2 separate regions of the Homo sapiens genome follow, and region 2 is linked to region 1. The links come from fine-mapping of genetic effects on gene expression. A gene starts in region 1. The other region holds a variant in brackets. All regions are shown on one strand. Distances are from middle to middle. Region 1 holds the start of SLC25A42 (solute carrier family 25 member 42). Region 2 overlaps TMEM161A (transmembrane protein 161A).

Evidence for each region.
Region 2: its variant is fine-mapped to the expression of SLC25A42 in skeletal muscle (GTEx, PIP above 0.99). The same link has a PIP of 0.9 or more in atrial appendage and left ventricle.

Annotation. Positions count from the first base shown.
Region 1 is chr19:19,054,775-19,071,078 of GRCh38, forward strand. SLC25A42 (solute carrier family 25 member 42) reads left to right here and starts at 9,220. Exons shown (of 8, transcript NM_178526.5): 1 at 9,220-9,341. It overlaps LOC124904655 (a long non-coding RNA gene), which reads right to left and starts at 8,751. Exons shown (of 3, transcript XR_007067160.1): 1 at 8,416-8,751; 2 at 7,270-7,377; 3 at 6,052-6,376. ARMC6 (armadillo repeat containing 6) reads left to right here. Exons shown (of 9, transcript NM_001199196.2): 7 at 491-622; 8 at 1,017-1,154; 9 at 2,642-3,402. The coding sequence ends at 2,854. RefSeq lists silencers at 8,692-8,861, 9,122-9,391.
Region 2 is chr19:19,121,941-19,138,244 of GRCh38, forward strand. It overlaps TMEM161A (transmembrane protein 161A), which reads right to left. Exons shown (of 12, transcript NM_017814.3): 2 at 12,844-12,947; 3 at 11,190-11,270; 4 at 10,717-10,814; 5 at 10,412-10,568; 6 at 8,216-8,367. Among named protein-coding and RNA genes, the nearest start is that of TMEM161A, 8.4 kb to the right of the region's middle. RefSeq lists enhancers at 15,920-16,304, 16,266-16,304. The variant A/G (reference allele first, on the strand shown) is at 13,022.

The DNA.
Region 1 (16,304 bases):
CAAGCCCAGCTGTTGACGTCAGCCAGCCTCTTTCTGTGCAAGTGGCCAGGAGCTGAATGGGAACCAACTTCAGCAAATGAAGGGATACATTTTGCCCTGTACTCCTGGGCAGTTGGGGGCAGGGTCCTCAGGTTCTCCATCGGGGGATCAGCAGTCCCAGTAGCACCTCATCCACTGTCCTCAGTGCAGGGCAGTTAGCGCCTACCCTGGGTCTGTGGCCGTGGACAGGGGGACCCTGTGCTCTGAAGGCCGGCCTGAGTCACATGCCCCCGCTGCCCCTGTCGGGGTAGGGGATCAAGTCACCTGGATGGTACCGTTTGGACACAGGCAGCCTGAGCCACAGGCATCTGCCACCCCTTCTCGTTAGTCACACCCTGCAGTCACACCATACCTGTTGGTCAAACAGCAAAACAGCCCCACATTCTCCCTCAGAGCCCTCTCCCACAACCAGCGGCCTGGCTGGAGGTGAGCGGGCCTTTCCCTTGTGCAGGAGCTCGTGAAGCAAGTGCTGAGCACCCTGCGAGCCATCGCAGGCAACGACGACGTGAAAGATGCTATTGTCCGTGCTGGTGGGACGGAGTCCATCGTGGCTGCTATGACCCAGCATCTGACCAGCCCCCAGGTACCCACCTCGGGGGGCACACACAGTAGCAGGGTGGTGGCTGGAGTCCCAGTTCAGTTTCTGTATCTGCATGAAGCTCTATTCCCCTGCAGGGCCAGGGCAGGGCTGGTGAGGGTCGTGGGCATTGGCTCTCAAATGCTGACCTGCGTATGCATGACTTTGGGTGTCCTGGAGTTACCACCAGCACCCTGCAAAGATCTGACCAGGCCTATTGCCCTTGTCACCCCTAAGAGCTGAGCTGATATTTTTGTCACCCTGCCATTATTACACAGGAGTTGCCAGAGACCCACGGAGGGGAGGCCGCAGGGTGTTCACCAGGGGTTGGTGGCCATGGCAGGATGTTGTGGGGGGTCTATCTGCTGCATCTCAGCCTTTCTGTGACTGGCCCCTGCAGGTGTGTGAGCAGAGCTGCGCGGCCCTGTGCTTCCTGGCCCTGCGTAAGCCCGACAACAGCCGCATCATCGTGGAGGGTGGCGGGGCTGTGGCAGCACTGCAGGCCATGAAGGCACACCCGCAGAAGGCCGGCGTGCAGGTGGGCAGGGCAGGGGATGGGGGCAGGCAGGCTGGTGTGGGATGTGCAGGTAGGTGCAGAGAGGGCATGGGAGCAGGTGCGGTGTGCGGGTGGGTGATGGGGCAAAGGCTCAGTCCCTATCCCTATCCCTGTCCCTGTCCCTCCCACAGCCGAGCCCCATAGGGCCAACTTCTTTCTCATCTTGCAAAATGTGCTGAATTCTGCCTTCATTTGCCTCCTTCTCTGCCTTTGTTTTTTCTGCATTTACTCTCCTTTTTTGGGGAGGGGGTAGTTTGGAGGGGCTTTCTGGTGAAACCCTGGAAAGAAAGCTATAACACGTAATCTCCTTCTGTGGGTTTTTTTTTTTTTTTTTTGAGACAGTCTCACTCTGTCGCCCAGGCTGGAGTGCAGTGGCGCCATCTCAGCTCACTGCAACCTCTGCCTCCTGGGTTCAAGCGATTCTCCTGTCTCAGTCTCCCGAGTAGCTGGGATCACAGGCATGGGCCACCACGCCCAGCTAATTTTTGTATTTTTAGTAGAGACAAGGTTTTGCCATGTTAGCCAGGCTGGTCTCGAACTCCTGACTTCAGGTGATCCACCCACCTCCACCTCCCAAAGTGCTGGGATTACAGGTGTGAGCCACCGCACCCTTAATCTCCTTTTTTAAAAGTCCCTATAGAGAGATCTGGGGAGAAAGAAGTTGGGGAAGCGTGGATGGGGATCTGCCTGGGGTTTCAGAAAGGTTTCTGCCCCCTCCTTGGGCTGCTGGTCTGAGTTCTGAGTGTGGGACACCCTGTCCACACCTCCCTGGCTGAACCCAGACTCCTCCGTGCAGCCCCCGGGGCCCTCCTCGCCTCCTCACTCCCAGCATAGGATTCTTGGACACACCAGGCTGGGACCCACAGGGGGCCTTTGCTCTCGCTGGCTCTTACTCTGGGACACTGACCCTTACCTGGTCTGACCCCTTGTCCACTTCTGGCCACCCTGGCCAGCAGTTCCCCACTCTGCATGCGCTTCCCACCTGCTGTCCTGCTGGTGGTGGGAGCCACCCTGGGAAGCTTCCAGGCAGTGCCCCGCGCCCACCCACAGCAGGTGCACAGGGCACAAATGTCCACTGAATGGGTAGGGATGTAATTGACAGGTGCCTGTGCACAACCACTGTCTTCCCGTGGCCTCACTGCCCCCTTGCCCTAGGGCCCCTTCCTTGGCTCTGTGCCAGCCTCGGGGGACCTCAGGCTCACCAACTCTGAGGCTGAGAGTTCCAAAGCCATAGGATAGATCCTGGAGCTTCCCTGAGCCTGTTTCCTTGCCTGGGAGTTAGCCATGCCTTGTGGGGCTGCCAAGAGGGTAAAGTAGAGAGATGGGTCTAGCTTGATACAGTATAGGCAGCTGCTGGATGTCAGCTGTGGTTATGATCACCTCCATCTTGTTATGATGAAGACCCTGAGGTCAGAGTGGACCCCACCCCAAAGCCCCATCTGGCAGCTCACAGCTGCTCTCTCCTACAGAAACAGGCTTGCATGCTGATCCGAAACCTGGTGGCCCACGGCCAGGCCTTCTCGAAGCCCATCCTGGACCTGGGGGCTGAGGCACTCATCATGCAGGCCCGATCTGCCCACCGTGACTGTGAGGACGTGGCCAAGGCCGCCCTGCGGGACCTGGGTTGTCATGTCGAGCTCCGAGAGCTGTGGACAGGCCAGAGGGGCAACCTGGCGCCATGACCCCAGGCCCAGTCTGGGCCGTGACTCTGGGTGAGTCGTGTGACTCAGGAATGGGGGTAGATCCATGTCCTCCACTGTCCCCCATTAGTTCTGTCCCCTTCACAATGAGAAGTGTTTTCTGGCAGGCCCTAGGTAAAGGGTCGGGGGAGGGGGGAGCCTTGTAGGGAGGCCTCTACACAGAAGAAAGCAGCCCCCATGTCCCAGCCACTTCTGGGTCCCAGCCAGCAGCACGGATGTTACTGTCCTGCTCCTTCCCCCAGCCCCACGCCCTACCAGAGGGGGCAAAGGGCACGTCCCATCACTCACTGCCCTGTCTGAAATGTGGCAGCCACTGTGGGCCAGGCTCAGGGCAGGGCAGGCGATTCCAGTGGGGTTGGGCCCCCTGGCGCCTGCTGCTTACTGCAGTTTCATGCAGGCCTCTGCTCCTTGTCTTTCTTACCTGTAAAATGGGTCTCAGATGCTCCGCCCTGCTTGGCCCCAGCTTGTCTGTCTCTGGGTCCTGGGCCAGCCAGGATACCTGATAATAAAAGATCATTGGGTGAACAGCGGAGGGGTCTCTTCCATAGCTTGGCTGAGCATGGGGGGCCACAGTCAGTGGCCTCAGAGTGTGGGGGAGAGACAGACATTTTGGTGGGGGGGGCCATGGAGTCACTGAGGATAGCAAAGGGGTTTTGGGAACAGCCAGGGATCTAGGATCTGCTGTCACCCTCAGACAGGCAGGCGCTGAGGCCATGGTCAGGATCACTGTTTCTGACGTGTACCACCTGCAGGGCCGGAGGGCTCCACGTTCATCCCCTACTCAGCTCTGCGGCCTTGAGCAAGTGAAAGAACCTCTCCGAGCCTCAATATGCTCCTCCTAAAGTGAGGAGTGGGGCAGTGATAGATCGCCCTCTGAGAGGTGTTGGACCAGGCTGAGCACATGGAGGGTGTCCAGTTGTCTTAGGCTGGGTGTCCTAGGTACCCAACCTCTTGTCTCTGAGCCTCGATTTCCCCATCTATAAGATAGACATCGGCGGGCACGGTGGCTCATGCCTGTAATCCCAGCACTTTGGGAGGCTGAGGTGGGTGGGTCACTTGAGGTCAGGAGTTCGAGACCAGCCTTGCCAATATGGTGAAACCCCGTCTCTACTAAAAAAATACAAAAATCAGCCCAGTGTGGTGACGTATGCCTGTAATACCAGTTACCTGGGAGGCTGAGACAGGAGAAGTGCTTGAACCCGGGCAGCAGAGGTTGCAGGGAGCTGAGATCACGCCACTGCACTCCAGCCTGGGCAACAGAGCAAGACTCTGTCTCAAAAAAAAAAAAAAAAGACATCATTGTTGTTGCCCTCAGTGACCACCCCACCCCAAGCATTCTGGGGGTGCCCAGACAGCTGTGGCCCTGCAGACCCCAGCTCTTCTGCTCTGAAGTCACACTCAGAGGTCACACCGTGGTCACTAGGTGGCTTGTGCATCTCTTGTGGCCTCACGGGGGTCCGGGCAGCCTCATGACCACTGGTGTGTGCCCTAGCCTTCCTGCCCACACCTTGGAGGCCTCTCCCCTCTTGGACCCTCGCCCCTGCTTGTCATGTGCCTCCCCGAGCCCCAGGATGGCCTGGGCTCAGTCCTTGACCTCAGGGACACTCCTTTCCCAGCAGGCCCCCAGCTTCCGTGGAATCCAGCCGATGCAAACAGCTGAGGAGCGTCACCCTGGCTGCACCTCTCCGTGGTGTCCCCGTCTCCCCTGCCCCCAGCAGGAAAGGGTGCTCTCAGCTCAGCAGGGCTGGCCCAAACCTCTGACCCAGTCACCCCGCCCTATCCCTCCTCCCTGGAGACTCCCAGGATGTGGGAGAAAGATCTCGAATCTGCCCCAGACTGCCCTGACTTAACTTCTGGGCCAGTGTGACCTTGGGCAGTTCTCAAGCATTTCTTCATCTGTCATGTGGCGGGGTAGGTGCTCCTGAGCTATTTCGAGGACGGCCTGCAGTGCTGGCCCTGTCATTCCTGCTCCAGCCTTGCTCTCAGTCTGCCCATGGCTCCCCTTTGCCTTCTACATAAAACCAAACCTGTCTGTGGTCCCAGCAACTTGGGCTAAGGCGGGAAGATCACTTGAGCCCAGGAGTCAAGGCTGCAGTGAGTTAGGATGGCACCACTGCACTCCAGCCTGGGTGACGGATCAAGAGCTTGTCTCAAAAACAAACAAACAAACAAAAAAATGCACTTCATGCCCTGCAGACCCAGTATGGCCCAGGCCTTGCCCATTTCCCAGTCTTTCCACTGTACTCACTCCCTATTCCCCCACCCCAGGGCCTTTGCACAAGCCCCCATGTGACAAGCCATGCCCTCTGCCTAGAAGTGCCCTTCCCTTGGCCTTCCCCGTGGCCGGCTCCTCCTAGCACATGAGGTTTCAGCTCACGTTGCCTTCTCCAGGAGAGACCCCCATCTCATCACCTCATGTGCTCTGGCTCTGACACTGGGCCCCATCTGAGGTCACCTCATTTGTGAACTCTCCTGTTTGTCTTGCCCCCACCATCGGCTGGCTCCCTGCAGGGAGGCCCCTGTCCCCACTTGCTGTGCCTTCAGCTTCCCGTCAGTGTTTTTGAGTGTTCACCTGAATAAACTGACAAGCACTCGAGGTCCCTGCCAGGTGGCCCCAGCGTCCTCCCCTGGGCCTGGGCCAAGCTGCAGGCTTCTTCAGGAAGGGGTGGTTCTGCCTTATCTGTCCCTCCCACCTTAGCCCAAGGAAGTGGGTGTCTTCAGTAGATGCAGCTAGCATGTTTGGACAGCCTCAGGTTGGGTGGGGGCCCCTCACCAAAGATCTCACATTTCCCTGGGGTTATGGCCTGGCTTTCCATCCCCCCTCGGCCACTTCAGGCATATCACCTCCCGTCTGTGAGCCTCGGCCTTCTCATCTGAACTCAGGCTAGATCTGGCACACTGGAGGGCCACAGCCCCTAGAAAGGCGCGCTTCAGGGGATGTCCAGAACATAACTCCCCCCAGCCCCCATCCCCGTCGCCTTCCCTTTTCTGTCACCCAGGCTGGAGTGCAGTGGCGCCATCTCGGCTCACTGCAAGCTCTGCCTCCCAGGTTCACACCATTCTCCTGCCTCAGCCTCCTGAGTAGCTGGGATTACAGGCGCCTGCCACCACCCCCGGCTAATTTTTTTGTATTTTTAGTAGAGATGGGGTTTCACCTTGTTAGCCAGGATGGTCTTGATCTCCTGACCTCGTGATCCGCCCGCCTCGGCCTCCCAAAGTGCTAGGATTACAGGCGTGAGCCACCGCACCCGGCCCTGGCCTTCTCTTAAGTAGCTTTTGCTGTCCTCCTTGATGACATCGAGACCTGGGCTGAGGTGGAGCCTGCTGCAAGGATGGTGCGAGTGTGTTCAGGCCACGCCTCTGCTACTGTAGGCTCTTGGTGAAGTGGCCTGACTTATCTGAGCCTTGGGAGGTGAATGAGGCCACTCTGACCCCAGCCAGGCTTGGTTGTTGTCACTGCTGTGTTCAGGATGTCTCCCTCCAGCCAGGGATGGGCTTGGGCTCCTGGGAAAGGAACACAGATTTTTTCTGTTGTGAACATACATCTCCCAGAGGCTGGACTAAACCTCATTTTCCAGATAGGAAATAGACTCATGGGCATTTGAGGGGCTGCGGTGGGATGAGACCACAGCTTGGCCTGCCTCCAGGCCCCTCATCTTTTTCCAAAGCTGTTAACCTGACCTTGGGCAAAAGGCCTTTGGGCCTCAGGTGATTAGGCCTGGACGCTGTGCCAGGGCCTGGCTCACAGATGATTCCTGGGATCCCCAAGAGGTAGAGGAGACTGGAGGGCGAAGAGGCAGTGTCCTGTCCAGGGCTGGCCAGCCAAAGCAGAAGAGCCGAGATCCTGGGCACCCTAGCTGGGCTTACATGAGTGCCCATGGTGGGGGTGTCCATTGCTATTGCCAAGGTGCTTTGCCTGCCATTGCTGGAAGGCGGTAGGGAGGTTGGCTGGCGCCAGCCTGCTAAAGAACGAGCAGAAGCTAGAGAGGCAGCCCCAGGCTGGGCCAGAGCCTGACCTTTGCCTTAGTTGGCTCTGTCCCTGGAGGCACTGTGGGACCTTCCAGGAGCTTTGTTACCTCCCCCTCCCAGGGCCTGGCAGGTGGGCACTGGGAGTGGGCGCTCCTCGGCGTAGATATCTCCCTCTTGGTGTGGCAAGCCACGCCCATAGTTGGTCTGTGTCCATGAAGCGCTATTTACAGAGAGGGAAACAGGCCCAGAGAAGAACAATATATCATCACCAGCCTTCCATGAGTGCTTACTGTGGACGAAGCCATTGTAAGTGTTTTGCTTCCATTTCATCAATGCTCACATCAGCCCTAGGAGACAGCCGGGAAACTGAAGTGGGGAGCTTGTGTTATTTGCTGAAGGTCCTGTGGCTGTTACTGGCCATTACTTACGTTAAAAAGAGCAGGGATTCAAACTCAGCCCTGGGTCCTTCCACCAAGGAATATTCTCCACCATAGGCTCAGTTTTCTTATCTGCTAAGTGGGCACTGTCACGTCCACCTGGAAGTGAGGTGGGGAGATGGTATTGGAGAAAGCCCAGTGGGGACCTGGCACCCAATTGATGTTCAACTGACCTCAGCTTCCCCCTCTTCTCTGGAGGGCAGAATGGAGGCCAGATCCTGGAAGTTGCCAGGAAGCAAACCACAGGTGGGAGGTATGGGAGAGGAGGTCCAGGTAGGCATATCGTGAGAATATCAGGAGTTTGATGATGGCCTTGGGCTAGTGATTTCCCGTCACATCCTCCCCATTTGAAACTTGTGGATCACACACTTAGCAGGGGCTTGTGCAGCCCTGAAATGTGAGCCCTTTCTAAGGTTGGTTTCAGCCTTGCTCCCTCCCAGGATTCCCTGGTTCTGAACTTGATCTCCACCAACCCTGGCCAGCACCTAGAGGAAATAAGAGCTGGTATCTGGAAACATTTGTAGCCCTCTCCATCCTGAAGATGAAGGGTGAGTCATAGAACAGAGTGGCTTCGGGGGAGGTGCCGATGACACAGCCATGCCTGGGATGGCAGGTGTCTCCCTAAACTGCCGGCATTTTTCTGCACTTCACAGAGGAGCTGAGGCTCACAGGCCGCACATGACCTGCTCAGGGTCAAATGCTTTCACCAGATAATTAAAATGAGAGCTGAGTTGTAAATTTTCCCAGGGAAGCAACCCCAGAGAGGAAAGATCAAGGCATAGGAATCATTTTCCCCCCTCTTTTCCAAATGAAACAGCTGAGGCTCACAAGGGCTTTTGCCCAAGGTTGTGTGGTGGGCCAGTGATTGGACAAGGATTCAAACCCAGGTCTCTGAGGCCCCCAGTGGCTCTTCTCTGACACACTCTTTCCAAAAAGCAGGCTGCTCTAGATTCATTCTCTGGTTTAGCAACCAGAGAATGCTGTGTAACCTTGGGCAAGGAGCTTGACCTCTCTGTGCTCTGGTTTCTGTAAAAGGAGCCAGTGGTCTCTCTGACCTCATGGGATTGTGGTTAAGATTCAGTTAATTCAAAAAAAGACTTGGCAGGGAGAAGGCCCAACAGGGATGTCACTGGATACCGTGGCGGGGAAAGCTGGGACGCAGAGAGGTCAGACACTCAGAAAACCACGCAGCGCGTTTCAGTAGGATTCCGCCCCTTATTTCCATGTCTTCACACCACCTCGAGATGGAGAGGGCAGTTCAGAGTGACCTCCAGCGAATCTGCCCTCTCCGTGTCGTCTGCAGGGGATTAGTGGGGAGTAAGGGGATAGAGAATTATCCAGGAGTCCTTCAGCCTTGATGGTCCAAGTTCACATCCGCTTCTGTGCTAGGTGGCCAGAGGGCGGGCTCTACACGAGAGCCTCAGGGGACCCTGCGCCAGGCGTCCGAGGCCACGTCGGGTTGCCGCGCTCCGGGTCGGACTGCACCTTGAACGCTCCAGCCCTCCCCTGGGGGCGTACCGCCCACGGCCGCTGCGACTGGCCGCGGGGCCTGCCAGTCTTCGGCTTTGCGGCCAATCCCGGTCTCCCCCCAAGCTACGCCCTCCGTTCCTCTCGCCTCTGCCCCACCGGTAGCGCCAGTTTCTTCGTAGCCCCGCCCCTGGCCCCCAGCGATTGGCCGACAGTTCTGCCTGTTTTCTGCCAAGATTCCAATCCTCGCCTGCCTCCAGGCCCTCGCCTCCCAGCGCCTAGCACCCTGAGGGACCACTCAGGCACCCCAGGCCTCTCCCAATAGCCCCACCTCTGCCAATCAGCGATTGGCTTTAGGGGCTGCCCATCTGCTTCATACTCGCCAATCACTGTCGCTTCCAGCGCTGACTGGCCAGGGAGCAGCCAATCGGGGCGTGGCGTGGACCCCTCCCGTGGCGCGCTCTGGGGGTGCGCGAGGCGGGGCCGTGGCGGCTGGAGGTAGCGGCGGCGGCGACGCGTCCGGGCCGGTGAGGGGGCGCGGGGGGCGCCGGGGGGGCCCAAGCGTCAGCGGCCCGCGCCTGTCGGGCTGAACTGAGGTGAGGCACGGGTCCTGTCATGGATCCCGGGGCGAGGGGCGGATGAGGCGGGGCATGACAGTAGCGTCGCGAGGGCAGGAAGAGGTTAAAGACCCCCCCCAACCCCACACTCCACGTCTACTGCCCCCTGGGGGCTACTGCATCCAGGTTTGAGCCCGTCACCCGCAGTCCACGCACGCCTGACACCACGTCCCTTTTCGTTGACATCCCCCATACACTTTAGACTGTCCTTGCTGACATCTCCCACACCCCTGGGGCCTTGTCCCCGGCGCCCCGCACAGCTGGGTCTGACATCCCCCTCACACACCTGACACCGCGCCCCCACTCACGAACACCCGCCCCCACTCACGAACACCCCCCACATCACCTGAGTCTGTCCTTGTCGATGACACCCCCACACCCACACCTGAGCCTGTGACTCCTAACTCATGGCCTCGCAACTCACACCTGGACCTAGTCCCGTCCCCCACTGCCTTTCCTCATATCCAGGTATCTGCTCGCTACTCTCGTGCCCACTCCCCCAGCAACCTGTGTCTCTCTTCTCAGGGACCTTCCCCCTGGCACCTGCCCTCTGCCCTGGCAGCCCCACACCTCTGTCTCCCCCTTTTCTCTCTCCCACCTTGGGCTTTCTTCCACGTGCACCTGTGTTCGCACACCCTCTGTAATAATCCCCCCGAATCCCCCAGGTCCTCCAATAGTCCCCCAAGCCTTGGTATCTCAGGATCGCTGCACCCTCCCCTCCCCAAACAAAAGCTTACCCCAGTGTTCATTTCTAACAGTGCTTGACAGTCTATAAAGTGATTTCCGGACCTTAGAATAATCCCATCTGTCAGACCAAACCGGAATCATCTCCATTTTACCAGCCACAGACCTAAACCACTTGAATGCTAGAGGCAGAGCCTATTCTACCCTGGGCATCGCTGACCCTCTGCTGTGGACCCACCGCGTTTGGGCCCATCTGTTATGTTTATCTCAGAGGGATTGGCAGGAGTCGTGACTTTGACTGGGTCCGGAAAGGCTTAGCTGGAAGGGACGGCCCCTCTGCCAAGCGTGTGTCTCGGAGTCCTGGGGCAGGCTGGCGGTGGAGACGCTGCCGGAGGAGGGGGGCTCATCATCTTGGGTGCCTCCTGCAGGATGCCGGAGAGGGGGTTGCCGGGGCCGGGGCTCCCAGCTCTTGCAGACCCGGGACCCCTCTCCGACACTCCCTGGGCCCTTGAAGCCGATAAAGAGTAAGGAAACACTCTTTAGAGTGAGGCAAACTAATGTTTCAGCTGTTTAAAGCTAACCTGCAAAACGAGCCTGGGTGGTGCTAGGAATGATTCTTCTGGAATTTTTTAGTTCCCTTGAGTCTGATTTGCAAGCATGCAGCATAGAAGGAGGACAGTGGCTTTGTTGTTGAAAAGCAATAACGTGCCATTTCCTGTAAGGCTCCTGGAGCGTTTCTTACCCCCTCCCACCGCTCCCTGCAAAGACGGTACCAGAATGTTTCAGAGGGTCATGTCACCTTCAGCTTCTCCTGTGGAAACTGAAGCCATTTGGGTTTTCTGTCCAACTTCAATAGGAGTCATTTAAAACATATATGGGCATGTATGTATATATGTATGTATATGTGTGTGTGTTGTACACATATGTACATGTACCTATAATATTCATATGTTTATATACATATTTTATATATACATATTTCGTGTGTGTTATATATGTACATGTGTATAAACTTTGGCAAGATCATTGAGTATATAGTTTTTGGGTTTTTTTTGAGACGGAGTCTTGCTCTGTTGCCCAGGCTGGAGTGCAGTGGTGTGATCTCGGCTCACGGCAACCTCTGCCTCCTGGGTTCATGCAGTTCTCCTACCTCAGCCTCCTGAGTAGCTGGGATTACAGGCATGTGCCACCACACCCAGCTAATTTTTGTATTTTTAATAGAAACGGGGTTTCACCATGTTGGCTAGGCTGGTCTCGCACTCCTGACCCCAAGTGATCTGCTCGCCTCAGCCTCCCAAGATGCTGGGATTACAGGCGTGAGCCACCACACCCGGCCTATTATATAGTTAAAAAGAAAAAATCAAACAGTACAAAAGGTCACATAGTAGAAATCAGTCAGGTCTTCCCCAGCCTGTACCCCGTTCCTCCTCAGATGCACCTGCTGTTGATAATTTCTTATGTTTTCTTCCAGAGGTAGTCTATGACTGGGGTGGCAGAAAGGGGTCGGGGGAGGTATATATCCCCCACCCCTTTTAAACCACTGGTAAATTTGCATTGAGCAGACATATGCATTCTAAGGCCAGTCCCTTACTGATGGCTGTTTAAGCTGCAGCCCATATTTTTTTTTTCTTTCTTTTTTTTTTTTTGAGTTGGATTCTTGCTCTGTCGCCCAGGCTGGAGTGCAGTGGCGCGATCTCGGCTCACTGCAAGCTCCGCCTCCCAAGTTCAAGCCATTCTCCTGCCTCAGCCTCCTGAGTAGCTGGGACTACAGGCACCCACCACTACACCCGGCTAATTTTTTCATATTTTTTTAGTAGAGACGGGGTTTCACTGTGTTAGCCAGGATGGTCTCGATCTCCTGACCTTGTGATCAGCCTGCCTCGGTCTCCCAAAGTGCTGGGATTACAGGCGTGAGCCACTGCGCCCAGCCACTGCAGCCCATATTTAGCTTTTACAAACAGAGCTGCAATGGATAGATGCATGCATCAGCATGTACTAAATACACATTGAACGTATTTGGGCTCCAGCCGTGCTCAGACACTTCAGACCCCCCTGTCTTGCTGGCCATGCCTGTAGTCCACAGTTACTCAGGAGGCTGAGGTGGGAGGATTGCTTGAACCAAGGAGTTCAAGGCTGCAGTGAGCTATAATCATGCCACTGCACTCCTCTCCAGCCTGGACGACAGAGCTAGACCCTGTCTCAAAAAAAAAAAAAAAAAAGGGCCAAGTAAAAGGGCATATTCCTCCTCCTCCTCTCAACTGTGAAGTTGGAAAGCCTGATTCCTCTCCTGTGGCCAGCTCAGTTATCTTACTATCAAGTTTTGTGGTCTGTCCCATCTGATAGGTAAAAAACAGCACAAGAGATCCTTTTGAACATCACTTCCATGCTTCCTACCCCTGTCTTAGGTGTTCTGGCTTGTGGGGTAGGGATTAAACATTAGACTTGTTTCTCTGCCAGTCAGACTAAAGTTCAAGAAATATTTGGGGCTGGATGCAGTGGTTCACACCACCCAACACTTTGGGTGGATGAGGCAGGTGTATTGCTTGAGCCCAGGAGTTTCAGACCAGCTCGGGCAACATGGTGAAACCCTATCTCTATAAAAAAAATTTTAAAATTAGCCGGGCGTGGTGGCGTGCGTAAATAGTCTCAGCTAGTTGGGAGGCTAAGGTGGAGAACTGCTTGAGCCCAGGAGTTCAATGCTGCAGTGAGCTATGATTGCACCATTGCACTCCAGCCTGGGCAACAGAGCAAGACCCTGTTTTTCTGTTAAAAAAAATTTTTTTTGAGTTCCTGCTCTGTGAAGCTTGTCCCTATAGCAGGGAGCAGTGGTGGTGCTGAGATTTTGGCTCAAGGTACCTCAACAAGAACAGTTGCTAGAAGAACCATTTAGCTGTTGCTGATTTTTTTTTTTTTCACTTGGGTCTAGGAAAAGAAAGATGAGGGCATCATGAGAGATTGAGACGAGTCAGATGTTAAATCTGTCTGGGAAGCTGTTTCGAGACTCTCTCCAATTGTCCAATTTCTCACCACTGGTGCCAGATGGAGGGTGTCGTCATACTGAAGTCAGGCCTCTGCCCACGTGTCATACAGTTTTTTTTGTCTGTCTCTTCTATTTTGGCAGTTAGACATTAAGAGGGGATTATTGAGATAATCAGAATCATTCGCTCGTTTGGGTTTTGCAAGACAGAGCTTTTAAAAGTGCATTTGCATTTTTTATTTTAAACATGAAATACTTCTTCATAAAAAGTATATTGGCCGGGCACAGTGGCTCACACCTGTAATCCCAGCACTTTGGGAGGCCGAGGCGGGCAGATCATGAGGTCAGGAGTTCAAGACCAGCATGACCAACATGGTGAAACCCTGTCTCTACCAAAGAATACAAAAATTAGCCAGGCGTAGTGGCATGCGCCTGTAATCCTAGCTACTCAGGAAGCTGAGGCAGGAGAATTGCTTGAACCCGGGAGTTGGAGGTTGCAGTGAGCTGAGATCACACCATCGCACTCCAGCCTGGGCGACAGAGCGAGACTCTGTCTCAAAAAAAAAAAAAAAAAGTATATCATGTCGGGCCAGGCATGGTGGCTCACGCCTTTCATCCTAGCACTTTGGGAGGCCGAGGCAGGTGGATCACTTGATGTCAGGAGTTCAAGACCAGCCTAGCCAACATGGTGAAACCCCGTCTCTACTAAAAATACAAAAATTAGCCGGGCATGTTGGTGGGCGCCTGTATTCCCAGCTACTCTGGAGGCTGAGGCAGGGAGAATTGCTTAAACCCGGGAGGCGGAGGTTGCAGCGAGCCAAGATCGTGCCACTGCACTCCAGCCTGGGCAACAGGGCAAGACTCTGTCTCAAGAAAAAAATAAAAACAAAAATAGCCGGGTGTGGTGGTGCATGCCCATAGTCCCAGCTACTCGGGAGACTGAGGCAGGAGAATCGTTTGAACCCTGGAGGCGGAGGTTGCAGTGAGCTGAGATGGCACCACTGCACTCCAGCCTGGGTGACAGAGCGACACTCAGTCTCAAATAAATAAATAAATAAATAAATAAATAAATAAATAAATTAGCTGGCCTTGTTGGCATGTACCCATAGTCCTAGCTACTCAGGAGGCTGAGGTGGGAGGATCACTTGAGCTCAGGGGGTTGAGGCTGCAGTGAGCCATGGTTTGTGCCACTGCACTCCAGCCTGGGTGACAGTGAGGTTCTGTCTCTTTAAAAAAAAAAAAAAAGTATATAACATGTATGTGAAAAGAAAGAAGATTTAACCAATAATAAAATTAGCACCCAACTCAGGAAGTAGAACGATGTCCCCTGGAGGCCCCACCCTGTTCACAGAGCTATTTTTAAAATATGCTTGTCAACATTTGTTTTCTTCACTGAGCACCTTTTGCTACTACCATCTTGGGCAGAATGCTTGGATTCCAGGGGCTCAACAAAGTTCTCTGCTGGCCAGATTTTCTGCTGAGCTCTCTGCCAGCCCAGCAGCCTGTGAGGTTCTGGCAGGCAAATGGCTGAGGACAAGCCACCAGCTGAGGGGCAGGCCAACACTTGGAGGCTTGGCCTCAGATCCCTGCATATTCGTTTCCCGTGGCTGCCATAATAAATTACCACAAACTGGGGGGCTTCAGACAACAGAAATGTATCCTGTCGTAGTTGTGGAGGCCTAAAGTCCAAAATGAAGGTGTCAACAGGACTGGTTCCTTCTGGAGGCTCTGAGGGAGTCCTTCCCAGGCCTTTCTCCGGGCAAACTTTGAAGTTCTTGGCTCGTGGCTACATCACTCCAGTCTCTGCCTTTGTATTAATGTGGCTTTCTCCCTGTTGTGTGTGTCTTTGTGTCCTCTATTTTTTCTTTCTTTTTAGAGATGGGGTCTCACTATGTTGTTCACGCTGGAGTGCAGTGATATGATCATAGTTCACTGCAACCTCTAACTCTTTGGCTTAAGTGATTCTCCCGCTTCAGCCTGCTGAGTAGCTGGGACTATAGGCGCAGGCCACCACTCCTGGATCTCCTCTTCTTTTTTTTTTTTTTTGAGACAAGCTCTTGCTCTGTTGCCCAGGCTGGACTGCAGTGGTGCGATCTTCGCTCACTGCAACCTCTGCCTCCCAGGTTCAAGCGATTCTCCTGCCTCAGCCTCCCGAGTAGTTGGGATTATAGGCATGCACCACCACATCCAGCTAATTTTATTTTTTATTTTTTTGAGACAGAGTCTTGCTCTATCGCCCAGGCTGGAGTGCAGTGGCATGATCTCGGCTCACTGCAAGCTCCACCTCCCAGGTTCACACCATTCTCCTGCCTCAGCTTCCAGAGTAGCTGGGACTACAGGTGCCCGCCACCACGCCCGGCTAATTTTCTGTATTTTTTTAGTAGAGACAGGGTTTCACTGTGTTAGCCAGGATGGTCTCGATCTCCTGACCTTGTGATCCGCCTGCCTCGGCCTCCCAAAGTGCTGGGATTACAGGTGTGAGCCACCCTGCCTGGCCATTTTTTTTTTTTTTTTTTTTAGACAGAGTTTTGCCCTTGTTGCCCAGGCTGGAGTACAATGGTGTGATCTCGGCTCACCGCAACCTCCACCTCCCAGGTTCAAGCCATTCTCCTGCCTCAGCCTCCCAAGTAGCTAGGATTACAGGTGCGCACCACCGCATCCAGCTAATTTTTGTATTTTCAGTAGAGACACGGTTTTGCCACGTTGGCCAGGCTGGTCTTGAACTGACCTCAAGTGATCTGCCCAACTCGGCCTCCCAAAGTGCTGGGATTACAGATGTGAACCACTCCCGGCCGATCCCCTCTTCTTATAAGGACACTAGTCCTTGGGTTTAGGGCTCACCCTAAATCTCAAGGTGAACTCATCTTAAGATCCTTAACTGATTGCATCTGCAAAGACCCTATTTCCAAAGAAGGCCATGTTCTGAGGTTCCAGGTGGACATGAATTTGGGGGATGTCATTCAACCCTTATACTTGCTGAGCTAGTTATTTCCAACAGGACATTATTAAGGGAAATGCTTGTTCAGGTACCTCTGTTACTTCAGGAAGAATAGGCCAATGGGGTCGGACACATTCCTCAGCCCCTCCAGATGGCTCATGTTGGCAGCTTTGCTTACTCACCTGTCTCCCTCGGAAGGTGGAGGCATCCAGATGCTCTAAGCCACCAAGGACCTGACTAGTGAATGCATACCGTCTTTTTTTTTTTTTTTTTTTAATACAGGGTCTCACTTTCTCACTTTGTTGCTGAGGCTGGAGTGGGAGTGTGGTGGCAAGATCACAGC
Region 2 (16,304 bases), 67 kb after region 1:
CTGCCAGGCCCTGAGCCAGGCACAAGGACAATTTTGTGCTCTAGTTACACAGTACTTTTTACAAGAAACAAGATTGGAGTGGTGGTTCACGCCTGTAATCCCAGCACTTTGGGAGGCTGAGGCAGGCGGATCATCTGAGATCAGGAGTTTCAGACCAGCCTGGCCAATGCAGTGAAACCCCCGTCTCTACTAAAAATACAAAAATTAGCCAGGTGTGGTGGCAGGTGCCTGTAATCCCAGCTACTTGAGAGGCTGAGGCAGGAGAATCGCTTGAACATGGGGAGCGGAGGTTGCAGTGAGCTGAGACCGCACCATTGCACTCCAGCCTTGGGGACAAGAGTGAAACTCAGTCTCAAAGAAAACGAAACAGAATGCACCAGGCAGACACTCCTGATTGGGCTGGGAACATTCAGGGGTATCTGTTGAGCCTGAGCTCCCTAGGTTATAGAAGGAATCTAGAGGGGGATGAAGGACTCCTGCAGGAGAAAACCAAAGTCCTCCTGGAGGAAGGAATCCTCAATTCAGGACCCAAGATTTTTCAAAAATTAAGAGCAGGGCTGGGTGCAGTGGCTTGCACCTGTAAGTCTCAGCACTTTGGGAGGCCAAGGCGGGTGGATCGTTTGAGCTCACAAGTTTGAGACCAGCCTGGGCAACATGGCAAAACCCCCATCTCTACAAAAAATACAAAACCAGGGGTGGTGGTGCACGCCTATAGTCCCAGCTACTGTGAAGGCTGAGGTGGGAAGGATGGGTTGAGCCCAGGATGTGGAAGTTGCAGTGAGCTGAGATCATGCCACTGCACTCCAGCACAGAGCAAGACCTTGTCAAAAAAAAAAAAAAAAAGGAGCAAATTCATATGAGCTCACAGGCAAAATCACCAAATGCATAAGGAAACAAATCACCATAAAGGAGAGTTAACAGAAAAACAACAGTCAAGTTTAGGCCTCAAAGACTTCAGAAATTGGTGCTGTCAATTATGTGTCAAATGACTAAGGAAATGAAAGCTGTAATCACAGAACAAGTGACATGAGAATTCCTTCAGATGACTGGGTAGAGTTGCAAAGGAACCAAATTAAACTCTTCCAAAGGAAAACTGTAAGTATTGAAATAATAGGTTGTTAAACAGCACATTAGGAACAGCCAAAGGAGGAAGTGATGAACTGGAAGACAGATCTGAAGAAATCACTCAGATTCCAACTCAGAAAAACAAGTAGGTGAGAAATATGAAGAGAGGCTAAGAGATAAGGAAGACAGAACAGAGAGCCCAACGCAAATCAAATCAGAGCCCCAGAGGGAGGGAAGAGAAGGAATGAAGAATAAAAGGAATTACTGGAAGAGAATGGTTGAGAAGTTTGCAGAATGAAAGACAGACACAAAGTATATCAAACCATGTAAATAAAAAGAAATCCATACCTAGACATAATGGAGTGAAACTGCAGAACACCAAAAACAAAAAAATTACAAAGCAGCCAGGGAGTTAAGACAGATCACCTACAAAGGAACAACAATTAGGCTGACAGCCAATGTCAACTGCAACAACAGAAAAGGAACAAATAGAAAGCAAAAAAGTAAGATGGTAGAAACAAAGTCAAATATGTCAGTAATCACAATAAATGTAAGTAGACTAAACTTTAAAGTTAAATGACAAAGACTGTCAGACTACATTGAAAATATCCAGCTACATGTTTTTTAAAGGATGACATACCTTGACATAAAGTCACTGGAAGACTGAAAGTAAAGGGATGTTAAAAAGATACAGCAAATACTAATCAAAAGAAAGCAAGCTAGAAAGGCTATACTACTACCAGCCAAACTAGACTAAGAAGTAGTATTAGAATAGGCCAGGCGCGGTGGCTCACACCTGTAATCTCAGCACTTTGGGAGGCCAAGACGGGCAGATCACAAAGTCAGGAGTTCGAGACGAGCCTGGCCAACATGGTGAAACCCTGGCTCTACTAAAAATCCAAAAAATAGCTGGGCATGGTGGCGGGTAATACCAGCTACTTGGGAGGCTGAGGCAGGAGAATCGCTTGAACCCAGGAGGTGGAGGTTGCAGTGAGCCGAGATTGCGCCACTGCACTCCAGCCTGGCCAACGAGAGCAAAACTCTGTCTCAAAAAAAAAAAAAGTAGTATTAGAAGACAGAAGGGTTCCATACATCATGATAAAATGGCTGATTCACCAGGAAAATGTAACAGTTCTAAATCTGTGAATAGAACTAATCTGTGAATTGTGAATAGGCTGCAAAATATATAAAGAAAACACTGACAGAATTGATAGGGAAATTGAGAGCTCTCTTGTCCCAGAGGGAGATTAACTTCTGCTGACTGATAAGTCACAGACAAAAGGTTAGGCAAGATGGAGATTTGAATTTATTAAACTCATAGAGCCAGGGAATATGTCCTTCAATTAGAACATGTGAAAAAAGGCAAAACAACAAAAACAGAATATGTCCTTCAAGAAAACAAGGAATAGTCACAAAATGTGATCACATTCCAGGCCATAGGGCAAATCTTACCAAATTTTAAAGAAATTATTTCAAATAGACCATCTGTGCAATTGAGCTAGAAATAAATATGTATTTTTTAAAGATCTATGTTTGAAAAATTTAAAAATATTTAATAATCCATAGGTCAAAGCATAGCAAGACCCCATCTCTACAGAAATCAGAAGGGAAATGTTAAAACACCCCAAACAGAATAATAAAAAATATCAGTCAAAACTTGGGTAAACTGCCAGGTGTGATGGCTCACACCTGTAATCCCAGCACTTTGAGAGGCCGAGGTGGGTGGATCACCTGAGGTTAGGAGTTTGAGACCAGCCTGGCCAACATGGTAAAACCCCGTCTCTACTAAAAATACAAAAATTAGCCAGGCGTGGTGGCGTGCACCTGTAATCCCAGCTACTCAGGAGGCTGAGGCAGAAGAATTGCTTGAACCCAGGAGGCAGAGGTTGTAGTGAGCTGAGATTGCACAGTTGCACTCCAGCCTGGGTGACAAGAGCAAAACTCCATCTCAAAACAAAAACAAAAACAAAAAAAAACTTAGGTGAACAAAAGTGAGACCTGGTAAAATATATATAGCATTAAATGCTATATATGCTATAAAATTAGAAAAGATTGAAAATTTATGAGCCAAGTAGCTAACTGAGAAATTGGAAACAAGAAAAGGAGGTACGCCAGTACTGTTCTCAAATCCAGAGGTCCTAGCCACACCAAAGGGGAAGGATCAGACAGAACAAAAGAAAACCAAAAAGAATCTGCAATTCAATAAAAATATAATTGTTTAGCAAGGTTAGTCCGTGGAGACACTCAAATTTGACCCCTATATGATAACACAAAAATTAATGTCACTGTCCATCAGCAACAGTGAGTAGTTTAGGAGCTTATATGAAATGTAAAAGTTGAAATATTTTATTTATTGATTTTTAAGATGGAGTCTTGCTCTTGTCGCCCAGGCTAGAGTGCAATGGCGTGATTTCGGCTCACTGCAACCTCTGCCTCCGGGGTTCAAGTGATTCTCCTGCCTCAGCCTCCCGAGTAGCTGGGATTACAGGTGCATGCCACCTTGCCCAGCTTTTTTTTTTTTTTTTTTTTTAGACGGAGTCTCGCTCTGTTGCCCAGGCTGGAGTGCAGTGGCGCGATCTTGGCTCACTGCAAGCTCCACCTCCCGGGTTCACGCCATTCTCCTGCCTCAGCCTCCCCAGTAGCTGGGACTACAGGCGCCTGCCACCACGCCTGGCTAATTTTTTGTATTTTTAGTAGAGACGGGGTTTCACGGTGTTAGCCAGGATGGTCTCGATCTGCCGACCTCGTGATGTGCCCATCTCGGCCTCCCAAAGTGCTGGGATTACAGGCATGAGCCACCACCCCTGGCCAGTCATTCTATATTTTCTTCTAAAATATTTCAGCCAGGCGTGGTGGCAAGCGCCTGTAATCCCAGCACTTTGGGAGGCTGAGGCAGGTGGATTGCCTGAGGTCTGGAGTTCAAGACCAGCCTGGTCAACGTGGTGAAACCCCATCTCTAGTAAAAAATACAAAAAGTAGGCCGGGCACGGTGGCTCGCGCCTGTAATCCCAGCACTTTGGGAGGCTGAGGCGGGTGGATTGCCTGAGGTCTGGAGTTCAAGACCAGCCTGGTCAGCATAGTGAAACCCCATCTCTAGTAAAAAATACTAGAGATCGCCCACTGCACTCCAGCCTGGGGGAAAGAGCGAGACTCTGTCTCAAAAAAAAAAAAAAAGACAATGTAGAATGACTTTCTGATTTTAGGGAAGGATATTTTTCAAGACAAATATCAACTAAAATAATCAACTTCCATTCATCAAGACACTAGAGGTGACACTTACAACTACATTTGACGACTCAGCAAAGAAAGTGTGATGCATGTATGCAGACGGAAAATAATGCAAATAGTGGTCAAATGAAAACAAAAGAAGTATTGGCAATGAAGTGGATAAATTTGGAACACTTGTGCACTGCTGCTGGGAATATAAAATATAAAATGGGCTGAGCACAGTGGTGCACACCTGTAATCCCAGCACTTTGGAAGGCCGAGGCTGGCGATTGCTTGAGTTCAAGAGTTCAAGACTAGCCTGGGCAACATGGCAAAATCTGTCTCTATTAAAAACACAAAAATTATCTGGGTGTAGCCAGATGTGGTGGCTCACACCTGTAATCTCAGCACTTTGGGAGGCCAAGATGGGCAGGATCACCTGAGGTCAGGAGTTAAAGACCAGCCTGGCCAACATGGCAAAACCCCATCTCTACTAAAAATGCAAAAATTAGCCAGGTGTGGTGGCGCACACCTGTAATCCCAGCTACTTGGGAGGCTGAGGCAAGAGAATCACTTGAGCCTGGAAGGTGGAGGTTGCAGTGAGCCAAGATCATGCCACTGTACTCTAGCCTGGGTGACAGAGGGAGACTGTCTCAAAAAATAAAAATAAAAATAAAAAAATAAATTAGCTGGGTGTGGTGGTGGGAGCCTGTAGTCCCAGCTACTTGGGAGCCTGAGGCATGAGAATCACTTGAATCCGGGAGGCAAAGGTTGCAGTGAGTGGAGATCACGCCACCACTGCACTCCAGCCAGGGCAACAGAATGAGACTCTGTCTCAAAAATAAAATAAAATGGTTCAGCTGCTGTATAAAACAGTATGGCAGTCCCTCAAAAAATTAAAAGTAGAATTATCATATAATCCAGCAGTTCCACTTCTGGATATATACTCTCCAAAACTGAAAATGGGGTCTCAAAGAGATACCTGTACACTCAGGTTCACAGCGGTATTAGTCAAAAAGCCAAAAGTTGGGAACAACCCAAGCATTCATCTGTGGATGAATAAACAAAATGTGTTCCACCCAGACAATGAAATAGTGTTCAGTCTTTTTTTTTTTTTTTTTTTTTGAGATGGAGTCTTGCTCTTTCACCCAGGCCGGAGTGCAGTGGCACTATCTAAGCTCACTGCAAGCGCCGCCTCCTGGGTTCACACCATTCTCCTCCCTCAGCCTCCCGAGTAGCTGGGACTACAGGTACCCGCCACCACACCCGGCTAATTTTTTGTATTTTTTTTAGTAGAGACGGAGTTTCACCATGTTAGCCAGGATGGTCTCGATCTCCTGACCTCGTGATCCGCCCGCCTTGGCCTCCCAAAATGCTGGGATTACAGGCGTGAGCCACCGTGCCTGGCAGTGTTCAGTCTTAAAAATGGAATTCTGGCTGGGCCCAGTGGCTCACGCCTGTCATCCCAGCACGTTGGGAGGCGGAGGTGAGAGGACTGCTCGAGGCCAGGAGTTTGAGACCAGCCTGAGAAGCATAGCAAGACCCCATCTCTACAGAAAAAAAAAAAAAAATTAAAAATTAGCCAGGTGTGGTGGCATGTGCCTGTGGTCCCAGCTACTTGGAAGGCTGAGGTGGGAGGATCACTTGAGCCCTGGAGATCAAGGCTGCAGTGAGTTGTGATTGCACCACTGCACTCCAGCCTCGGTGACAGAGTGAGATCCTGTCTCAAAAAAAGAAAAAAAAATTCTAACACCTGCTACAACATGGATATGCCTTGAGGACATTGTGCTAACTGAAATGAGCACGTCACAAAAGGACAAATACTGTATGATGCCACTTATATGAGGAACCCAGAGTGGTCACATTCACAGAGACAGGACGTAAAATGGTGGGTGTCAGGGGCTGCAAGAAGGAGGAACAGGGAGTTAGTGTTTGATGGGCTGGAGTTTCAGTTTTGCAAGAGCAAAGAGTTGTGGAGATGGACGGTGGTGATGGTTGCACGACATCTAAATAGACTTTTTTTTTTTTTTTTTTTTTGAGATGGACTCTTGCTCTGTCGCCCAGGCTGGAGTGCAGTGGCGCGATCTCAGCTCACTGCAAGCTCCGCCTACCAGGTTCACGCCATTCTCCTGCCTCAGCCTCCCAAGTAGCTGGGACTATAGGCGTGTGCCATTAGCCTAGCTAATTTTTTGTATTTTTAGTAGAGACAGGGTTTCACCATGTTAGCCAGGATGGTCTTGATCTCCTGACCTTGTGATCCGCCTGCCTTGGCCTCCCAAAGTGCTGGGATTACACATGTGAGCCACCACACCTGGCCTACATTTTTTTTTTTTTTTTTTTTTTGAGACGGAGTTTCACTCTTGTTGCTCAGGCTGGAGCACAATGGCTCGATCTTGGCTCACCACAACCTCCGCTTCCTGGGTTCAAGCAATTCTCCTGCCTCAGCCATCCAAGTAGCTGGGATTACAGGCATGTGTCACCACGCCCGACTAATTTTGTATTTTTAGTAGAGACAGGGTTTCTCCATGTTGATCAGGCTGGTCTTGAACTCCCGACCTCAGGTGATCTGCTTGCCTGAGCCTCCCAAAGTGCTGGGATTACAGGCATGAGCCACCATGCTCGGCCATCTAAATATACTTAATGCCACTGAGCTGCACATTTAAAAATGGTTAAGATGGTGAATTTTATGTTTTGTCTATTTTACCACAATGAAAAAAAATTCAAAGAGAAAAAAGATTCAAAGATGGGCAACAATGTGAACAGGTATTTCACAAAAATTTCACAGAAGAGACATGAATCATGAATAAACAGGAAAAGGTGCTCAACTTCCCTGGTAATCAGAGACATGCATGTTAAGGCCACAGAGGGCATCATTCCATGTGACGAGGGCTAGGTTGGCAAAAATCAAGCCCTATCCATGGATCTTGATTCATTTAAACCTTACTGCCGCCCCCTTGGGAGATTGGTGCAGTCACTACCCCACCTACTTATTATTTGAGGGGTAGGTTTGCAGGTACTCATATGATTATTTTGCTTTATAATTGACATACACATCTTCTTTGTATATATCAAACATATATAATTTTAAAAACTGAAAGGCAGGGAGAATTGGAGAAGGTAAAACTCAAGCAGTCAGCAGGGTCATGTGGGCCATGGTGAGGGCTATGGTCTTTCTCCTAAGACCGGGGGAGTGTGGTGCCGGGCAGAGAAGTGATGAGGTCCAAATTATATGTTAAAAGGATCATTTAAGAGGCCAGGCACGGTGGCTCACACCTGTAATAACAACAATTTGGGAGGCTGAGGCGGGCAGACTGCTTGAGCTCAGGAGTGTGAGACCAGCCTGGGCAACATAGTGAGACCCTGTTTCAATAAAAATAAATAAATAAATAATTTTTTAAAAAAATGAAAAAAGAGGCCACACACAGTGGCTCATACCTGTAATCCCAGCACTTGGGGAGGCTGAGGTGGGTGGATCACCTGAGGTCAGGAGTTTGAGACCAGCCTGGCCAACATGGTGAAACCCCATCTTTACTAAAAATACAAAAATTAGCCAGGCGTGGTGGTGCACACCCATAATCCCAGCTTGGGAGGCTGAGGCAGGAGAATCACTTGAATGCAGGAGGCAGAGGTTGCAGTGAGCCAAGATCATGCCACTGAACTCCTGCCTGGGTGACAAAAGTGAAACTCCATCTCAAAAAAAAAAGAAAAAAAAAGAGCTATAGCCATGAGTGTCCATCAGAGACAGTGAGAGAGGCAATGTCCTGTCTTCCCCAAAGCCCAACAAGGTTCAGGAGCTGAGATGGTCACTAATGGGGACTGCCTTCACCCCAGGAGCCCACTCCTTTGCCTACTCGTGCTGGACACGGAGCCAGTTAAACCATCTTGGTCAGATTACATGAGGGAGTGACAGCTGCGGTGGCCCCACGTTGGGGGCTGCACTTACCAGGCTCCAGGCCCAGCTCGAGGGTCTCCTCCCGCACCACTTGCACCAGCATGGCCAGCAGCAGGAAGAGGAAGGCAAAGGTGAGGCAGACAGAGCGCTCACCCCCCTCCTCGGCGCTGAAGTACAGCCGTGTCACTGTCAGGAACATCTTGCTGGAGGCTGGAGCTAAGGAGGCCTCAGGTGCCACTGCCCCACTCTGCCCATTTCACCACACTCCGTCTGGGACCCCAGAACTCCAGGGAACAAGCACTGCTGCACAAATAGGCCTTGGGGATGACCTAGAGGAGTTCGGTTTTGGGGTGCTGGATCTCAGATCAGGATGTGGGCTGGGGGTTCCCGTTGAGTGGGAGATGGCCTCATCAGGCCACCGTGTCTGTACAGCCTCCCGCCCTGGGTGACCCTGCCTCTTTCACCCACCTCACCTACTTCACATCCCTTGGAAAAGCAATCAGATATAGAAGGGCTTCATCTCCAATCTGCTGTCAAAATGCAGCATGGGGGCCAGACACAGTGGCTCATGCCTGTAATCCCAGCACTTTGGGAGGCCAAGGCAGGAGGATCACTTGAGCCCAGGAGTTCAAGAGCAGCCTGGGTAACATAGTGAGACCCCCATCTCTACAAAAAATAATTTTGTGGTAGCCCCTGTGGTCCCAGCTACTGGGGAGCCTGAGGTGGGAGGATCGCTTGAGCCCAGGAGTTTGAAGCTGCAGTGAGCCCTGATTGCACCACTGCACTCCAGCCTGCACGACAGAGGGATATCTTGTCTCAAACAACAACAACAGGCCAGGCGCAGTGGCTCATGCCTGTAATCCCAGCACTTTGGGAGGCTGAGACAGGTAGATCACCTGAGGTCAGGAGTTTGAGACCAGCCCTGACCAACATGGTGAAACCCAGTCTCTACTAAAAATACAAAAATTAGTCAGGCATGGTGGCGCATGCCTGTAATCCCAGCTACTTGGGAGGCTGAGGCAGGAGAATCACTTGAACCCGGGAGACAGAGGTTGTAGTGAGCCTAAATCATGCCACTGCACTCCAGCCTGGGCAACAAGAGTAAAACTCCATCTCAAAAAACAAAACAAAACAAAAAACAAAAAAGCATGGGAATCTGGGGAACCAGTGGATTTTAAGACAGGTTTCCCACTCCAAAAGTCACAGGAGTAGCATTCTTTCTGTGCTTCCTCAGACTTGGGTCCCCAAAGTCATGTATTTGCTCTCTTTGGGAGGCCAAGGCAGGAGAATCACTTGAAGCCAATCAGGACCAGCCTAGGCAACAAAGCAAGATCCTGTCTCAACAACAACAACAAATATATATACATGTACATACATACACACACACACATATATATATATATACACACACACACACACACACACACAATTTTTTGGGGGGATGTAGTTTCGCTCTTGTCACCCAGGCTGGAGTGCAATAGCATGATCTTGGCTCACTGCAACCTCCACCTCCCGGGTTCAAGCAATTCTCCTGCCTCAGGCTCCTGAGTAGCTGGGATTACAGGTATGCACCACCACCCCCGGCTAATTTTTGTACTTTTAGTAGAGAAGGGGTTTCTCAATGTTGGTCAGGCTGGTCTTGAACTCCTGACCTCAGATGATCCACCTGCCTCGGCCTCCCAAAGTGCTGGGATTACAGGCATGAGCCACCGCGCCTGGCTAATTTTTGTATTTTTAGTAGAGACGGGGTTTCACCATGTTGGCCAGGCTGGTCTTGAACTCCAGACCTCAGGTGATCCGCCTGCCTCAGCTTCCCAAAGTGCTGGGATTACAAGCATGAGCCACCATGCCTGGAGTATATATTTTTTAAAATTTTGCCAAGGGACCATATCTTTCTTGGCCCTGATTGTGGACTGGCCTGGTGATTTCCTTAAACAAGGAGAATGTGGTAGAAAGAATAGGGATGGGGTGGGTGACTTTGGGCAAGGCATTCCCTCCTGCCTCCTGGCATTTCTACTGCCACCAAAGGGCATGACCATGTGGAGTGGAGATGAACCGACCTGCTGAGCCCAGCCCAGTCTGTCCACCCACAGAGCTGGAGCACATAAAATGTCTGCTTCATGTCACTAAGCTTGGGGAAGTTTGTGGCACAGCAGGTGAAAACTGCCACACCAGTTTAGGGGAGCCAGGGAAGCTCAGGTCCTGCTCCCACCCGCCCCACTGGCAGGGAGCAGAGAGGAAGGATACATGGAGAAGGTCACCGTGAGCAGGCACCAGAACACAGCAATGTTAGTCTCCTTGGCTGGTCCCAGCATGTAGTAGTAGGCCTCTGTGAAGAGGTACACGCCGCCCGAGTACACAGCAAAGTCCACAAACCACTGGTACTCCAGGAAGAAGCGCAGGACTGTGGGGGGCACTCTGCTCAGCCCTGGGGCCCAGCTCGCTCCCCTCCTAATAGAACATTCTTCCTTCAAATCCTCCCCACCCCCATGAGGGTGTGGAGACCTTCAGGGCTGAGGGAGTAGAGTTTAGGGATGGGACTGGGCTATTACCCAGGGCATCCACGGTCGTGAGGGGGCAGGTCTCCAGCTGGAACGGGGCATCTCGGGGCACAGACAGTGGCTTCTCCTCACTAAGGCCATTGGCCCACCTGGGAGGATGGTGACAAGCAAGAGGGACGGTGAGCACGCATTCCACTGAGGCCAGCCACCCTCAGAGCTCAGAGCAGCTGGCCTGGAGACCATCTCTTTCCACAACCTTGGCTCCTCTGCACACTGGGATATGGGGATCCCCCCACCCACCCACAGGACTGGCTAGAGCAAACTGCCAGGAAACAGATGCTAACTTGACAGTGACCATCTCCTTGGACTAGGGTCTCCCGGTTCACCTGTGCCCAGATCAGCGCCTGGAAGTATGGGTGGGCCGGTCCTGTGTCCCTGAGCCCAGAGCCCCCTGAGCAGGGGTGAGGCCGTTCCTGGGGAGGAGCCACCCTCCCAAGGCTGGGGCTGGGGCCCAGGTCACTCACCGCTCTTTCCTGCCTCTGGGCCTCGGCTTCCCCGCCAGGGCCCGAAGCTCCTCCTCAGACGGGTGCTTGTATCGGAACAAACTGAGAGCAAGGACGGGCAGTCAGGGAAGCTCAGGCGTGGGGTTGGGAGGTTGAGGCAGTGAACCCCAAATCCAGGGATTCTAGTTAGAGGGTAGCCTAGGCCAGGGGAACACTGGGAGGTAGGTGAGGGTACAGCATGGGGAAATTCTGGGGAAATCGTGAGACCAACAGATCTAGGCTGAGTGGGCTCCGGGGGCTTGGATACCCCTGAATCTGCTGGCTAACTCTCCTGGGGAAGCCAGTGTGTGCAACTTTTCTTTTCTTTTTCATTTTCTTTTTGAGACAGAGTCTCCCTCTGTCACCCAGACTGGAGTGCAGTGGCATGATCTTGGCTCACTGCAACCTCCACTTCCCCGGTTCAAGTGATTCTCCTGCCTCAGCCTCCCGAGGAGCTGGGACTACAGGCATGCGCCACCATGCCCAGCTAATTTTTGTATTTTTACCAGAGACAGGGTTTCACTATGTTGGCCAGGCTGGTCTCAAACTCCTGACCTCAAGTGATCCACCCGCCCCGGCCTCCCAAAGGGCTGGGATTACAGGTGTGAGCCACCTCGCCCGGCCTTTGTTTTTTGTTTTTGAGAGAAGGCCTTGGTCTGTCGCCCAGGCTGGAGTACAGTGGCACCATCTCAGCTCACTGCAGATTTGACTTTCTGGGCTCAAACGATCCTCCTGCCTCAGACTCCTGATTAGCTGGGATCACAGGCGTGAGCCACCATACCTGGCTAATTTTTAAAATATTTTGTAGAGACAGGGTCTTGCCATGTTGCCCAGGCTGGTCAAGTGATCCTCCCACCTTGGCTTCCCCCAGTGTTGGGATTATGGGCCTGAGCTATCATCTCTGACGTGTTTTTTTTTTTTGCCTTTGTTTTTGTCACATACATTTTTCTCAGGAGAGAATTCAGTTGCCACCAGATTCTCAGAAAGCATCACAGACCCACGCAAGGACAAAAACCAGAGCAGGCGAGCTCTAGCAGATGCAGGGGTGGAAGGAAGGCTGGGTTACAGGGAGGCAGGAAGAGTGAGGGACGTGGGGAGTGTGGTGATGGTTCCACACATGTGTACACCTGTCAAAACTAGTCCAACTGTGTACTTCAAATATATACAGTTTGTGTCAGGCATGGGAACTCACGCCTGTAATCCCAGCACTTTGGGAGGCCAAAGTGGTAGGATCGCTTGAGCCTAGGAGTTTGAGACCAGCCTGGGCAACTTAGCAAGACCCCATCTCTATTAAAAATTTAAAAATTGTCTGGGCATGGTGGCGCACACCTGTAGTCCCAGCTACTCAGGAGATTGAGGCAGGAGGGTCACTTGAGCCCAGGAGGTTGAGGTTGCAGTGAGCTATGATCAGGTCACTGCACTCCAGACTGGGTAACAGAGTGAGACCCTGTCTCTAAAAAGAAAAAGAAAAAACAAATATATGCAGTTTGTTGTACTTCAATTACACCTCAACAACGTTTTTCCCCCCACCACCCACCAACCAAAATCAAGGCTTTGCAATTTGTGAGGCGGGGCGTGGGGAGCCAGAAGGGGGCGTGACTCCGCGGGCCCCTCCCACCGCCGGGGCGGGGCTCACCTGCCGTTACAGAGCAGCCAGCGCGCGAAGGAGCAGTGTGGCGCCAGCCTGTGCATGAGGGTGGCAGTGAGCAGGGTCACCACCAGCTGTACTCCGAGGACCGCCTGGGGGGAGGGGACATGACTGGCAGCACCTGCCAGAGGGTCACAAGTTCCCTCCCTCCCTAGGAACCCAGGCT[A/G]TTTATAGAGAAGTCAGGCTGGATGGGGGAAGGGCGAGCCTCTTAGGCTCTAGCGGCTTCTTAGGGGAGAGTCCTGGGGTGAGTCTGGACTCACCTAGCATGGCCCTGCCCTCCCACGTCAGAGATCAACACCCACCCTCACCACCTAGCGGGAGTGTAGGGCAGTGGAGACCATGGGATTTGCCTCCCGCCTCCGCTATGGATTCAGGTATAATATTAATTTCCCGGAGTCTCAGTTTTCTCATCTGGAAATGGGTGCTTCCTATGTAGTCTCCTGTATTCCTCACCACCACCTTCCAGCCCCTAACCACGAGCCCGCCACACTCAGTGAAAGCGGCTCCCACCGCCTTCTGCACCCCACACTGTCACCTAGGGAGCCACTGCGTCTCGGTTGAGCTTCTAGCTTTCTCCTTCACCTGGTAGCTCCTTCCCCTAAGTGTCTCCCACCTTAAGTGATCCCTGATGGTTCCATCACCCTCCTCCCTCTTCTTCCCTTTGTAATTAACCTCCTTGAAAGGGCGTCTATGCTCCTGGCCACCTCCTGTTTTGGTGTGAAGACCTACATGTCTGAGTGGGGTGAGCTTATTTATTTTTATTTATTTATTTATTTTTTTGGCAAGGGAGTGGTGGGGAGAACAGGGTCTTGCTCTGTCACCCAGGCTGGAGTGCAGTGGCATGCTGGGGTGCTCACTGCAGCCTCAACCTCCCAGGCTCAAGTGATTCTCCCACATCAGCCTCCCTAGTAGCTGGGATTACAGGCACTCGCCACCATACCCAACTAATTTTTGTCTATTTTGTAGAGACAGGGTTTCTCCATGTTGCCAGGCTGGTCTTGAACTCCTAGGCTCAAGCAATCCTCCTGCCTTGGCCTCCCAAACGGTTGGGATTACAGGCGTGAGCCACTGTGTCCGGCCTATTTTTATTTTTATTTTTAGAGATGGGGTCTTGCTATGTTGTCCAGGCTGGTCTCAAACTCCTGGGCTCAAGTGATCCTCCCACCTCAACCTACCGAGTAGTTAGGACTACAGTCATGTGCCAACACACCCAGCTAAGGCTTTTTTTTTTTTTAATTAGGAATTTTCTCACCCAGTTCTTAATTCAGAACACATTTTCATATACTTATTTTTAAACGTTTTAGAAGAATCAGTCTGTGGTGAAGCTGGGTTTTCCTGCTTGAATGCAGTAAATACCCATTTGCTGCCAGTAATTACATAATTATGTAAAATTATGTGCTCAGGAGAGCTGTCTACTAGTGTTCTGGAATTATCATCAAAATGAAATAAAGTTTATTTAATAGTAAAATTAATTATGAAAATAATCCTTTAATCAGGCATAAATAAGCTAAATTTAGTCGGAAAAACCCTAATGTGATGGGTACCGGGCCTAGCACGGTAATTCAAAATGACTGCTGAGGCCAGGTGCGGTGGCTCGTGCCTGTAATCCCAGCATGTTGGGAGGCTGAGGCGGGCTGATCACTTGAGGTCAGGAGTTTGAGACGAGCCTGGCCAACATGATGAAACCTTGTCTCTACTAAAAATACAAAAATTAGCCAGACATGGTGGTGGGCGCCTGTAATCCCAGCTACTTGGGAGGCTGAGGCAGCAGAATTGCTTGAACCTGGGAGGCAGAGGTTGCAGTGAGCCGAGATTGTGCCACTGCACTCCAGCCTGGGCAACAGAGTGGGACTCTGTCTCAAAACAAAATAATAATAATAATAAAATAAAAATACATAAAATAACAGACTAATAGGACATTTTCTCTGTACCTGTGACTTGTAAACTGAGACCAGAAATCTTTTTTCAGTAATGAGGTTGGTGGCGGCATCTTTCTCATCTCTAAGTCCTCATTGCTCGCCCTCCCCGGGACCCTAGTGCAGACTGGCTGGCTGGCACTTAGGGACCATGAGTGCCAGCCCATGGGCCCCTGCAAGCCAGTGGGTCAGGGCTGTTGAAGCCCCACCCTTCCCCTAGGACCCTGCCCTCCCACCCCCCAGTCTGTTTTTCTCCTCTCTCTCCGACCTCTCTCCTGTGACCTGCCAGGGTTTTAACCACCCAATCAGCCAGCCCATCAAAACCTCAGCACGGTGACACCTCCAGCCCAGACCTCTCTGCTGAGCTCAACCAGTAGCCTCCTCCAGGCTCTCCTGGGAGACCCTAGCACTCACCCATCATCCCATACCCTTCCAGGTGGTTCAGGCCCTTCCCAGTCTCACAGTCAGCCCCCAACTTGGTTCTGCACCCTGCAGGCATAGCTAGAGACCATCCCTCCACCTCCCCACAGCTCAGCTCTCTCCTCAGCCCTCCCTGCACCCAACCACTGGAGTCTCAGAGGTCTTCCTGGACCTTTGGGCTCTTCATCAATGACCCCACCACCCCCCAAAACCCCCCAAGGGAAAAGGTGGTGGAGGGGTGCATCTCTCCACCTAAGGCTCCCAGAGGTCTGTCCAGGGATGTTCTGATGGCCCTGCCCTCCACCCAGCCTCCTGTCTCAGGGTCAGGGCTCTGCAGACATCTGCAAGAATTTTCTGGAGTCTTCCATCAGCTCCTTCTTTTCCCTTCACTGGATTTACGATTCTCGAACTCAAGAACCCTGATAAAATCAATGCAGCCTCCCTCCTCATTCCCGGGAGCCTGTGCCTTCATCTCCTACGGCGTCCTGCACCTCCGCCTGGGACGACGCCCCACTTTCAATAATTCCGGCCATCAGTGCCCTTCCTTCAGGGCCATCTCCAGCGCCCCTCCTCGGGGATGGTCCCAGGCAGAGACCCTCCAGTTCCACGTCCCTCTCTCTGCCCAGGCCGGTCCCGTCAGGGTTGTGGGAGTCCCCCATCTCCCTGCACCAGCCTGACCCCCAGGGGCTGGGCTAAGTTTTAAGAACACACTCAATAGGTTGGACCCAGAGCCGCGTGAGACCTGAAGGTTCCAACTTTCCTGTCTCCCACTCTGAGAACCTTGCCCGCCCTGAGGCCAACCAGACCTCCTGAGTCCACCTCCCACGGCCTCCCCTGCCCGTTCCACACACCCCGATATAGCAGGGACCCCCGATGGATCCTGTCGGCGCGGCCCCCACGCTCCTGCAGGACCCCCGTCCCCAGAGTGGACCCCCAACAGGACCCCACACCGCCTTAACCAGGTTCCAAATGTGCTGGGGTCCCCAGTCCCCTCTGTGGGACCACGACCCCTCAAAAGGATCCCAGACCCCTAAAAGGTCTCGAGGGCAGAATCCCCAGAACGCTTAGGGGCTTCTAGTCCCCCTGGGTACAACTCCCGCCGACTCCCTCGGA